3 linked regions of the Homo sapiens genome follow. The protein of the gene in region 3 purifies or fractionates together with the protein of the main gene of each other region. This does not show direct contact. Each region holds a gene or a part of one and is shown on either strand. Other genes may lie near its edges.

What was found.
Region 1: the proteins of CD96 (region 3) and CLSTN1 purify together in Homo sapiens (affinity purification with mass spectrometry, with the first as the bait; one large-scale study listed by BioGRID). This does not show direct contact.
Region 2: the proteins of CD96 (region 3) and FAT1 purify together in Homo sapiens (affinity purification with mass spectrometry, with the first as the bait; one large-scale study listed by BioGRID). This does not show direct contact.

Annotation. Positions count from the first base shown.
Region 1 is NC_000001.11:9,733,441-9,737,093, forward strand, and holds part of CLSTN1 (calsyntenin-1 isoform 1 precursor), read right to left. Parts: intron 2,603-3,653; coding exon 2,445-2,602; intron 2,176-2,444; coding exon 2,027-2,175; intron 1,735-2,026; coding exon 1,508-1,734; intron 703-1,507; coding exon 532-702; intron 107-531; coding exon 1-106. UniProt on the Homo sapiens protein: Postsynaptic adhesion molecule that binds to presynaptic neurexins to mediate both excitatory and inhibitory synapse formation.
Region 2 is NC_000004.12:186,591,252-186,594,904, forward strand, and holds part of FAT1 (protocadherin Fat 1 isoform 1 precursor), read right to left. Parts: intron 1-3,653.
Region 3 is NC_000003.12:111,594,125-111,597,777, forward strand, and holds part of CD96 (T-cell surface protein tactile isoform 2 precursor), read left to right. Parts: coding exon of another isoform or gene 1-77; exon of another isoform or gene 78-942; intron 943-1,175; exon of another isoform or gene 1,176-1,378; coding exon of another isoform or gene 1,379-1,450; intron 1,451-3,653. Other genes in the region: ZBED2 (zinc finger BED domain-containing protein 2), read right to left, coding at 1-77. UniProt on the Homo sapiens protein: May be involved in adhesive interactions of activated T and NK cells during the late phase of the immune response. Promotes NK cell-target adhesion by interacting with PVR present on target cells.

The sequences.
Region 1 (3,653 bases), on a different chromosome or scaffold from region 3:
TCTGAGCAGATGAGCTTAAACTTCCGGTCAAGCAAGGACCTGGCATGCCAGTTCCGATAGCGCAGCAGGTGCAAAACCTCCTCGTAGCTGGCCATGGTGTCCACGCCTGCAGGGGTTGAAAGGGGGAAGATTGCCGGGTGGCTTAGGGCAGGAGCATGGGCAGGGCTGCAGCCGTCAGCACAGGCAGGCTCAATTAGACACCCAGGTTAGCTAGGCCAAGGGGTCACACAAGTTGGCTTTCTAGCCATGGGAATAAATGCAATGTGCACAGGGGCATTCTTCCCTCTGTGGGGGACGTGTCATCCCACGCCTCAACCCTCCCCCTTTAGAGAGTAGTGGCTACACATCCGGTACCTGTCCAGGAGACAGGAGTATGCGTGCAGCCAACAATGATCCCAGCGAACGTGCTCCTTCCCCATCTCCCTCTAAGATAACTCAACATTCTCAGATGGCAGGCAGCAGCCAGCCAAGAGCTCTCAAAGTCCCCTCTTGCAGCCTGGCCCACCTGCGTGGCTGCAGCGCTCCCCTTACCTGTGAAGGTCATGCCCAGTTCAGAGCTGCTCACTTCAATGCCCTTCTGCTGCAGGCGGGCCATGTCCACCTCCAGGCTCTCCTGCTCGTGGTTCAGCTCCTCTCCCTCCACCGTGACCTCACAGGTATCCAGGTCGTGCACGATCTCCTCGGACACCAGTGATTCTTGAACTGCAAAAGAGGCCCAACCAGAAATATTAAGTAGGGGCAGTGGGGCCCAGCGTGGCGGGGCACACTGGATGCCCTGCCGGCTCACCCCAAACCTACATGGCTCTCGTAAGGACCAACGACAGAAGCAAGCGAGAGTTGCTTTCAAGAAACGGCTGGGCGCAGTGGCTCACGCCTGTAATCCCAGCACTTTGGGAGGCCAAGACGGGTGGATCACCTGAGGTCAGGAGTTTGAGACCAGCCTGGCCAACAGGGTGAAAGCCCGTCTCTACTAAAAATACAAAAATTAACCGGGCGTTGTGGCAGGTCCCTGTAATCCCAGCTATTCGGGAGGCTGAGGCAGGAGAATCGCTTGAACTCAGGAGGTGGATGCTGCAGTTAGCCAAGATGACACCATTGCACTCCAGCCTGGGCGACAGAGTGAGACTCCATCTCAAAAAAAAAAAAAAAGGGGGGGAGTTTCATGTGTCCTGAGCAAGAATTGTGGGGACATTGTGCCTCCATGGGCTGGCCAGCCTGGCAGGTGCAAGCAGTGTCTCCCGTAAGTGCCCTCAACCCCTCAACCTCAAGCCACATCTCAAAGCCTGGCAGCAACCAGGAAAAGATGTAAGACCCCTCCAGATGGGATTCCAGAGATCACCATGAGCTCCAGCTCACGGGTCAGATTCCAGAAGCACACCCGAGAGAACACCAACGAAAGATTAAAACCTCCCCAAATCCCACAGAGACAAAGAGCCCCGCCAAGTACATGGGGACAATGGGGTTTCCGGCCGAGGCGAGGGAGCCCGCGCCCCACAGAGCACATTACCTGTGGGGTCCTCAGCCCCGTCCCCTTCAGGCTCCACTTCTCTCGTGATGGTGCTGATGATGCGAAGCTCAGGGAAAAGGAACACCCCTTCTGAGCTTTCAAATTCAGAAGCTGCTCGGGCAAAATGGTGGACGCCACTCAGGCTGATCTTGGGCTCCTCGGGCTGTAAAACCATCACGTAGCCATCTACCGGGGGGACCGAAATGCAGGTGGCCTCGTTAAAACACCTGCCAGCAAGAAATGGGGAAGGGTCAGGGCTTTGGGAGCCGATCTTGGAGCCCACCTGTGCAAAGGCACATGGAGGTGGGATACAGAGGCCCCCACTAACACCTGCCGGGGCCACTCCAGGAACACACTTGCAAACAAGATGCGTAAATATCACTCAGCTCTCTGCCCCACACTTTCTGGTTACACACGATGGCTCACCTTTCCTTACAGAAGGGGTTAGGCTGTCTTAAAAACCTAAATATACAAGTGTCATTGGGCAAAACAGGCCGGCTGTTAAAAATCAGGACGTACTTGATTGTGCTGGTGATTTTGAGTCTGCGAATTCCGGGCGTGGGGAACTGCCGGGAGTTCAGGTACGAGATGTGCTGCATGGCCTTATCCAATTCCCCGAGGTCTTCTCCCTCCAAGGTCAATACCAACTGGCTGGGGTGTGCTTGGATCTGAAATCACACCAGCCACAGAGAGGAGAAGAATAAGCCAGTAACCGCAGGAGCTGAAACCACAGATGCCTCCACAAAGGGGACTGGCCTGGGTTCGATTTGAATTGCTGACTTGAAAAAGAAAAGCTCGTTTAAGTCCAGTGAACACAACTCTTTTACCCAACAGTAAACGTATCAATCACAGATTACTCACTCCCTCATCCCACCAGCCTCCGGGGCTGTAGTCTAAGGGGCCCATGAGTGGTGTGCAGTCGAGCGCTCGGTGTTACCTGCACGCCTCTGCCACTGTCTTCGAGGACCTGCAGGTCCAGCCCCTCCTTGCAGGTATACAGACAGTCGATCACCTTCTTATCCGCGAGTTTCCCGGAACGGAGAGTTAAGCCAGCCAGATTGCCTCGGAAAAACTGGGTCATGTGCAGGTCGCCACCTTTGGGTCAGGGGAGAAAAGGCGAAGTCAGGCGTGCAACCCAGCATCGCCCAACTCACTTCTCACTCAACACGGTGTTACCGGTGCTGGCAGCTCAGTGGATGGACATGCGGGTTAGTTCATACCAAGTCCTGTTAGCCTTGCAATCTACATGGAAGCGCAATGAAGAAATTAAACCGTTTATGATCATGCACATGGCCTGGAGAAAGGGAGAGTTGGGGGTGTCTCACCTGAAGCCAAGAGGTCCCCTGAGGGTCCCCACACCTCTGGCCACTACCTGGTAAGGTGGCCTACCCTGTTCTCATCACCAGGGTGCATGGTGACACTTCCTACGCCACCAGCCTCTCCAGCCACTGCCTTCTCAGCTGGCTGGGTTCCACATGGCTGTTTTCTCTACCTGGCACGCCCTGGGGAATGAACCCACACAAGCGAGGCAGGGAGGATAAAAGGGAGGCTTAAAATACTCCCTGCATGGAACGGCCTATTTCAAGGATGCTATGGTGTTAAGTCCCATCCTTCCTGCCTCCTCCTGAGGATTGCTGAGAAGTGCAGATGTTACAACGAAAACCAAAACCCAGAAAATGGCCCTTGACAGATGACAACAAAGAGCCAGAAACAGGTTACACTAAACCTTGTTCTTAAACTGAAAAGGAAAAGGGACAAATTTTCAGCAATGTGTCTCATTCTGGTACAGAAATCAGGCACTGTAAATCATGACTAGGAATTGAGGTTTCTAAGAAACGGCTATTTGCCAGGCATGGTGGCTCACGCCTGTAATCCCAGCGCTTCAGGAGGCCGAGGCGGGTGGATCACCTGAGGTCAGAGTTTGAGACCAGCCTGGCGAACATGGCGAAACCCCGTCTCTACTAAAAATATAAATATTAGCTGGGCATGGTGGTGCATGCCTGTAGTCCCAGCTACTTGGGAGGCTGAAGCAGGAGAATTGCTTGCACCCAGGAGGTGGAGGTTGCAGTGAGCCAAGACCGCGCCACTGCACTCCAGCCCAGACAACAGAGCGGGACTCCATCTCAAAACAAAAAAAAAAGAGAGA
Region 2 (3,653 bases), on a different chromosome or scaffold from region 3:
AAAAACGGTCACATCCGTGATTTTTTAAACAAGGCTTTCTATGCATTCAACAGTGTTATAATTTGGGACAAATATTTGATTGATAGTTCACTTCTAGAAATTTCAGTAATTTTAAAAGACTGTGGTGTCTCTAAAACATGAATACGCCGGCATTTAGGTAACATGTATCTACAGAATCATTTTTAAGTCTAGTAACAAAAGCAGCAATTCCTTTAAACAAAAAAAGATCAACAACTTTTGTTACGTAGGCACTAGTAATAGCTTTCAACTTTAAATTCCATGTGCACTTCTTGGATATGCCAAAAAATATTTGTCAATGAAGGAGACTGCAATGAAGGAACTGTTGAAATTCTGCTTCTATAAGCTTCAATAATATTTAAAATGCTGAAGGTCATCAGTTTAACACTAAAACTTCACTAGACAAAATACAGGTATGTTTCTGATTTGCCCAGTGAAAACATGGTACTTCTTAGGAAAAGAAGTGTAGGCGTCATCAGTAACTATAACCATGAACACTGGAGTATCTAAGCCTCTTCTGCCTGATAGCAAATGGGGCCCAGAGCTATCCTCCCTCCTCCTGAACCTTGACAGCATCATGTCCTAGCATAAAGGATCCCCCGAACTCTATGATGACGTCTGTGTACTCGATGGCCTCTGTAAGCAGTTCTCGAGTGGGATCTCTAGACCGGCACCATCAGAGCTACCTGGGAACTGGTGAAAAATGCAAATTCTAAAGTCCCAACCCAGACCTGTTGGATCAGAAATGCTGGTGCTGAGAACCAGCAATTGGGCTTTTAACAGCCCTCCAGATGATCTGATTCACATTACAGTTTGAAAAGTACTAGCCTGTGTCTTCCCCATGTGATGAATTTCAGTGCACTAATAAAGGGCTATTTTAATTTAAAATAATTTGGGGAAGGTGCTCAATGTCCTTTCTTACAACTCTGAGCAGATAAAGCTTCACATTAAATAATTTTCACTAAACCAAATATGAAAATATTCTTTTACCATGCTCTACACCCTTTTCTTTGATCATACTCAGGGAAAAACCAAAAGTGAAGAGTCAGTTACAGGTTAATTATGAAAGCTTTACATTATTCAAGTCTTATTCCTGTACATACGAAGAAGAATTTTTGTTTCAAAAAAATTTTAGGTAAAATTACTTCTGAACTTTTTCTTGATTGCACCACCTACAGATAAGCTCTCCAGATCTCATGTAAATCACTATGAATGGTAAAAAGGAACAAAGACATAACATACATTGAGATATTTTTTGCAAAGCACTCATATTACGTATATACACACCTGCATAAAATAAAAGGACTCAACCCCCTCAAAACCACAAACTGTTTTTTCCTACCATTGCAATAGCAATGCGGCCGAGCTCTACGACACGGCTGCTGCAAGACACAGACACAAGCACGAGCACTTACAACTGTACCTTCTGTGCTCACCGTGTCAACCACAGCATTGACAAGGTGCATTACGGTCACTATGGAAGCTTGCAAAAAGGTACAAAAGCAGTCAATTAGGAACATCTTCAGTTAGTTAGAAAACAGTGCATGAAATAAAGTTTTGTATTATACCATTTCTACCTCAGATTCCAACCGATGAGTGCTTTAATACAACCACATAATGATGCGTGGTCTCCTCACTGTTAGCTGTGTGTCTCAGAGACTTTTTTAATCGAGCTATATATTTGTTATTATTAATCAAAGGAATAACGTAAACATATTTTATTGGAATTTAAACAAAAAAACTTTTAGCTTTAAATTTTTTCACAATTACAATTATGCATCATGCCAGGCCAAAACGATTCTTATTTTAACATCTTACAGGCAAGACTCGACATTCCAAGACTACAGTCTGTGGTTCGCCACTCTTCCGGCTGCTTAATCACTCACACATTGTCCCCCAAAAAAAAGAAATTGAAGGAGAAACATATGCAATCTAAAACAAGAATGTTTTTGTCCCTGTTCTGATTGCTTTCCCTGCAAATTTCTCGTCTGTTTGCAGATGGACTAATCGCTGGTGAGCTAATGTACGAGTATAGGAGGAGACTCTGTCCGTCTGTTTCCTGTGTAAATTCCCTTTTCATTTGTGTATCAGATTGTTTTAAAATAACTATGCCAAGGTAAATATGTACGCATGTGGTAGGCAGAAGGCTGGCCCTCAAATAGTCCACGTCCTAATCCCAGGAGCCTGTGAATATGTCACTATACATGGCAAAAGGGACTTTGTTGACGCGGTTCAGATAAGGAAATTGAGATGAGGGATTTCCCTGGATTACCTGGGTGGGCCCAGTGTAATCATAAGGGTAACTTTTCTGCACAGAGGCGTTCCCAGTTACGGCTGGGGGGAGCTCTGCTGACAGAAGGGTGGTCAATGAAACACTGTGTTGCTGTCTCTGAGATGGAAGAAACCAAGAGCCAAAGAATGTGGGCAGCCTCTAAAAACCAGGAAAGGAAGGAAAACAGGTTCTTCCCTCGAGCTGCAGAAGGCAATGCAGCCCTACTGATCGCATGACTTAAGCCCTGTGAGACACAGGGGTTGGGCTTCTAAGCTACAGAATGACAGCAACACAAGTCTACATTGTTTTAGGCCACAAAGTTTGTGGTAATCTGTAATGGCCCTGGAAAACCGGGAATACGACGCAGGAACAGACTCTCAGCAGACTTTCAGTTTACAACTGATAATTACATTATGGTAATGAGTAAAATAAAAACACTCCTGTATATATGTTTTTTCTCTGCATTGTACTATCTGGAAGCTAGTTTTCATAACTAATTTGACCATAACTTATTGAAAGCACTTGGGACTATTTTTTTTTTTGAGACAGAGTCTCGCTCTGTCGCCCAGGCTGGAGTGCAGTGGCGTGACCTCAGCTCACTGCAAGCTACAACTCCCGGGCTCAGGCCATTCTCCTGCCTCAGCCTCCCCAGTAGCTGGGAGTACAGGTGCCCACCACCACGCCCGGCTGATTTTTTTTATATTTTTAGTAGAGACGGGGTTTCACTGCCAGGACGGTCTCGATCTCCCAACCTTGTGATCCGCCCGCCTTCACCTCCCAAAGTGCTGGGATTACAGGCGTGAGCCACTGCGCCCGGCCACCTGGGACTATTATTAAGAAGACTGATGTTCCAACAACAAGAACTAGAAAGAAAATGCTGATAAAATTCTGAAATGTATTTATAAAGAGCATTTAGGGGCCAAGATATAAATTATTACATAAACTGGAAACAGGAACTTCTTAGAATTAAAATTGATAAAAGACATAATTCTATCTTGTTGGTTTAACAAGCAAAGCTATGTCCATACACCCTATTCCTAATCAACACAGGTATATTTTGATACCATATATACGGTATCAAAATATACCTGTGTTGATTAGGAATAGAGTGTGTATATATATATATACTTGAAAGTATATATATATATATATATATATACTTGAAATCAGAAATGATAGCACATACTTATAGCTATCTTTAGTTTGAAAAATGACTGCAATAGATAATGACTATATGGATTTATGGACTATATGATGTATTATGGACTATATTACTCTGGATTGAATAATTATTAGTGGGGTTACCTTTTCCCACCAATAAAATATTTGAAATGTATAACATATTAATATGTTTAATAATAAA
Region 3 (3,653 bases):
TCCTCCTCCTTCATCTCTAAGTCCCCTTTTGCCTTCATCATTGTTCCCTCCTCTTCCTCGTCTTCCCGCCTCATCATGTCACCTCTTCTACAGCGTTCTTTATGATGTGCTTAGATGTGAGCCAAAAGCTTATTTGAACCACAAGATTAAATATATATTTGGGAAGGGCCTGTGGTAACTCTTGGGGATTCACAATAATGGCCAAAGTCTGGCCACACCTGGGTGGTGTGAGGTTTCTTCCTTTCTGCTTCACTGGAGAGTCAGGGGTGAGTCAGATACAAGCAAAACAGCCCAAGAGTGCATTCCTTCCATGCCCCAGATACTTACTTATCCTCCCTTGACTAGGCCAGAAAGACAAAACATATCAGTTCCTGTAGCAAAGGGGTTCTCTGGTCCAACAATTACAAAGCTCTTTGATGAACTCAGTGTTTTCTGCATCAACCACCACGACAGGTATTTTTGAATATTGAAAATTTTAGGTTTTCTTGTTTCTCCTCCTGGTTGTTTCCACTGTTTCTGTGCTTCTTATTTCCTATAATTGCATTTTGGAGGCAGGAGAAACAGCCTCAGGGTTCAGGCTTTTCAGGACCAACAGAGCTAGGGCCTCACTGGGTCTTGCTCAAAGTAGGTAAAAGCAAACACAGGCAGATGCTGGTGCAGGAGACAATCTTGCTTCCTAAGAACTGTTGCAACAAGCAATCCAGAGTAGACAAAGCCTATGAGGATCTGGATAATAAAGTTCCCAATGCAAGGTCAGTTTGTCCTTAGAGGTGTCTCTCAGAGGCCAGGAGTCTAAGAAATCCAAAAAGCAAGCTCAGCTGTTTCAGCAGGAGGAGCTGGGATGCACAGAGGAGAAGGTGGAGCACATCTTCACAAACACAGCGTTGCCTGGCTGTCCTTAGCAAGCAGCTCACCATACTCCACCTTCTCCACCAGGATCACCTGCAAAGCCAACAGCCAATAAGACCTTCCTGAGGCAACTTACTCCAGATGTTTTGCTCTTTACCTCATTTTAAAGATAAATAAGTAAATGGAAAATCATATTACATTTAAAAACAGCCCGACTTCTCTCTCCTTTCTTGGGTCATTTCTTAAACTAATGAGAGCTTTATTTAATCAAGCTCTGCAACCGTGAACAGTTAGGAAATTCCCCCCAGCCACAAGTGGGTACTTACAAGCAGGCAAGGCTCTGGACTTCTCTCTGATCTTTCCTGCGCAGAGTGAAAGCACTCCTGCACACCTTGGATGTCTATTAGCTGACTCCTACCCCCAGAAGGAGGGCACCTCCAGTTCTGGTTTCCTCCCACTTCTAGGGAAGCATTGTTTCCAGGTAGGTGTGTCTGTGCCTGTTGGGTTTTTCTGCAACACTTAGACACAGATGCAAACCTTTTCTCCACCCCCTCCACCACCAAGAAAAGGATGTTCCTGGCATATGTCATGCAGCAAAACAGTAAGTCAAGCACCTACAAGTCTTAGTTCTCTTTTTTGATGACTAGATTACCTAACCTCTCAAGTAAAGCAAGCGATTTGAAGGAGGAAGAGTGGGAAAGGCTGAAATATTAAATGTATACACACATATATATTATATATATACATACATTATATATAATATGCATAATATATATATGTGTGTGTATACATATTTAGATTGAGAAGGAAAACCTACCAAGAGGAGATAGGAAGACTCTAAAGAAGGTATCAATAGAAGAAGAAAAAACTTTGTGTTATAAAAGGAAAGATAGAAATGGCATTGCAGGCCAGGAGCCATGGATCTTGCCTGTAGTCCCAGCACTTTGGGAGGCCGAGGCAGGTGGATCACTTGAGGTCAGGAGATCGTGGCCAGCTTGGCCAACATTGTGAAACCCTGTCTCTACTAAAAATGCAAAAATTAGCCAGGTGTGGTGGTGCACGCCTGTAATCCCAGCTACTTGGGAGGCTGAAGCAAGAGAATTGCTTGAACCCGGGAGGTGGAGGTTGCAGTAAGCCAAGATCATGCCACTGCACTCCAGCCTGGGCGACAGAGGGAGACTCTGTCTCAAAAAAATAAATAAATAAAATGAATAAATAAAAATAAAAAAAGAAAGAAAAGAAAAAGAAATGGCATAGCAGAAAATATGTAGAGGTTGACAGTTAAATTAAAATAGAAAAAAAAGATGGGGGAAAAAGATTCAAAATAGGAATGAGACTGGGAGGAGTTTTAGAACATGAACCACATTTCTAAACCAAATCTTGGAACGCAAAGTCTAGAGAGAGTCTAGAATGTTTGAAATTTGGATCATTTCAGAAAATCTGAACCTAGAGAATTCATGAAAGTCAAATCTTTTCAAAATTTTTAGACGTTAACCAGAGTTCTTCAGTGAGCCAGTTGCCTTCGTAAAATAATAACACCCCCACTTACTCCTGATATTACCATATCGTCATCTTTGGTGGGTTAACTAAAGAGAAAGGAAATGAATCATAAGAATGGTTAATGTCACTGGATTAATGCAAAACTTTGTATCTTTTTCTTTTTTTAAAAAAACATTTTACCTCCTTTACCTTTTTGTCTCTTCCTGGACCAACTGGAGATAAAAATCAATCTTTGGCATCTATTGAATTAAACTGAACACTCTCCTTTACTTAATAAGAATGTATTTTAGAGGATCTGGTTTTGCTTTTAATTTTTTAGTGGAGAGACTAGCATCCCTGGCCCATATATGTATCCCCATTATCTGGAAAGGCAAGTGTTGAACGGATGGGAATACTGGGAGCTACGGTGTTTGCCACCCAGCATCTTGGATATGCTAGACAACCCCCTCTGAAATTCTCTTGTTTCATTGGGATTTCTGTAGCAATGTACTGAGAAATAGTAAACTTCTGTAGGATTTCACCAGGAAAATGTTAGTTAGCATTCTCGAATTTGGTTTCTCAGCTCTATAGGCCCAGACTTCTTGGGAGTAACTAGTCTGAGGATTGGCACACAAATCATCACATACATTTAATTGTTCTTTACATGTTAACTAGTATATTCATTAATTGTGGAAAATATCTGAGAACTAAGAACTAGGGCTGGTCATATGTAAAATATATACATCTCTTGATGAGAAAACAAGTAATTATAAAAGGAATTATAATTTTGAAGAGTCTCAGATAAAACAATGGGAATCCAATAATTCTCACTGGATATTTTCACCAGACTGTAAAAGAAAGTATCATCCCCCAAAGAACAAACATAGCATTGAAAATAAAACATAACTAGCCCTGCATCTAAGTTCTCTGCTTTCATAATATAGTTACTTCTTTCATTTTTTTATTTCAATACAATTTTTATTAAAAAATATGTTGGACTGAGATTAAGGAGACATGGTTTCTAATTGTGCCATTAACTATTTTCCACTTCCTCGAACCACTGGGTGCCTTGATTTTTCCATTGGTCAAATGGCAAAAATAAGGCATGCTCTACCTATCCTTAAGATTAAGCCAATGAATTGTTTTTAAAAATTAGGAAAATGCTTCACAAGTAAAAAGTAGGATATTTATATAAATCGTTTTCTGTGATTGTTACAAATAGTGTCGTACATTATTTGGAGCACAGAAACAGCTTGTAGATCCCCTTGAGCTTTTAATCTAACAGACTATTCTTCTCTGGCCTCTGTTTGCTATAGCTTCTTCCT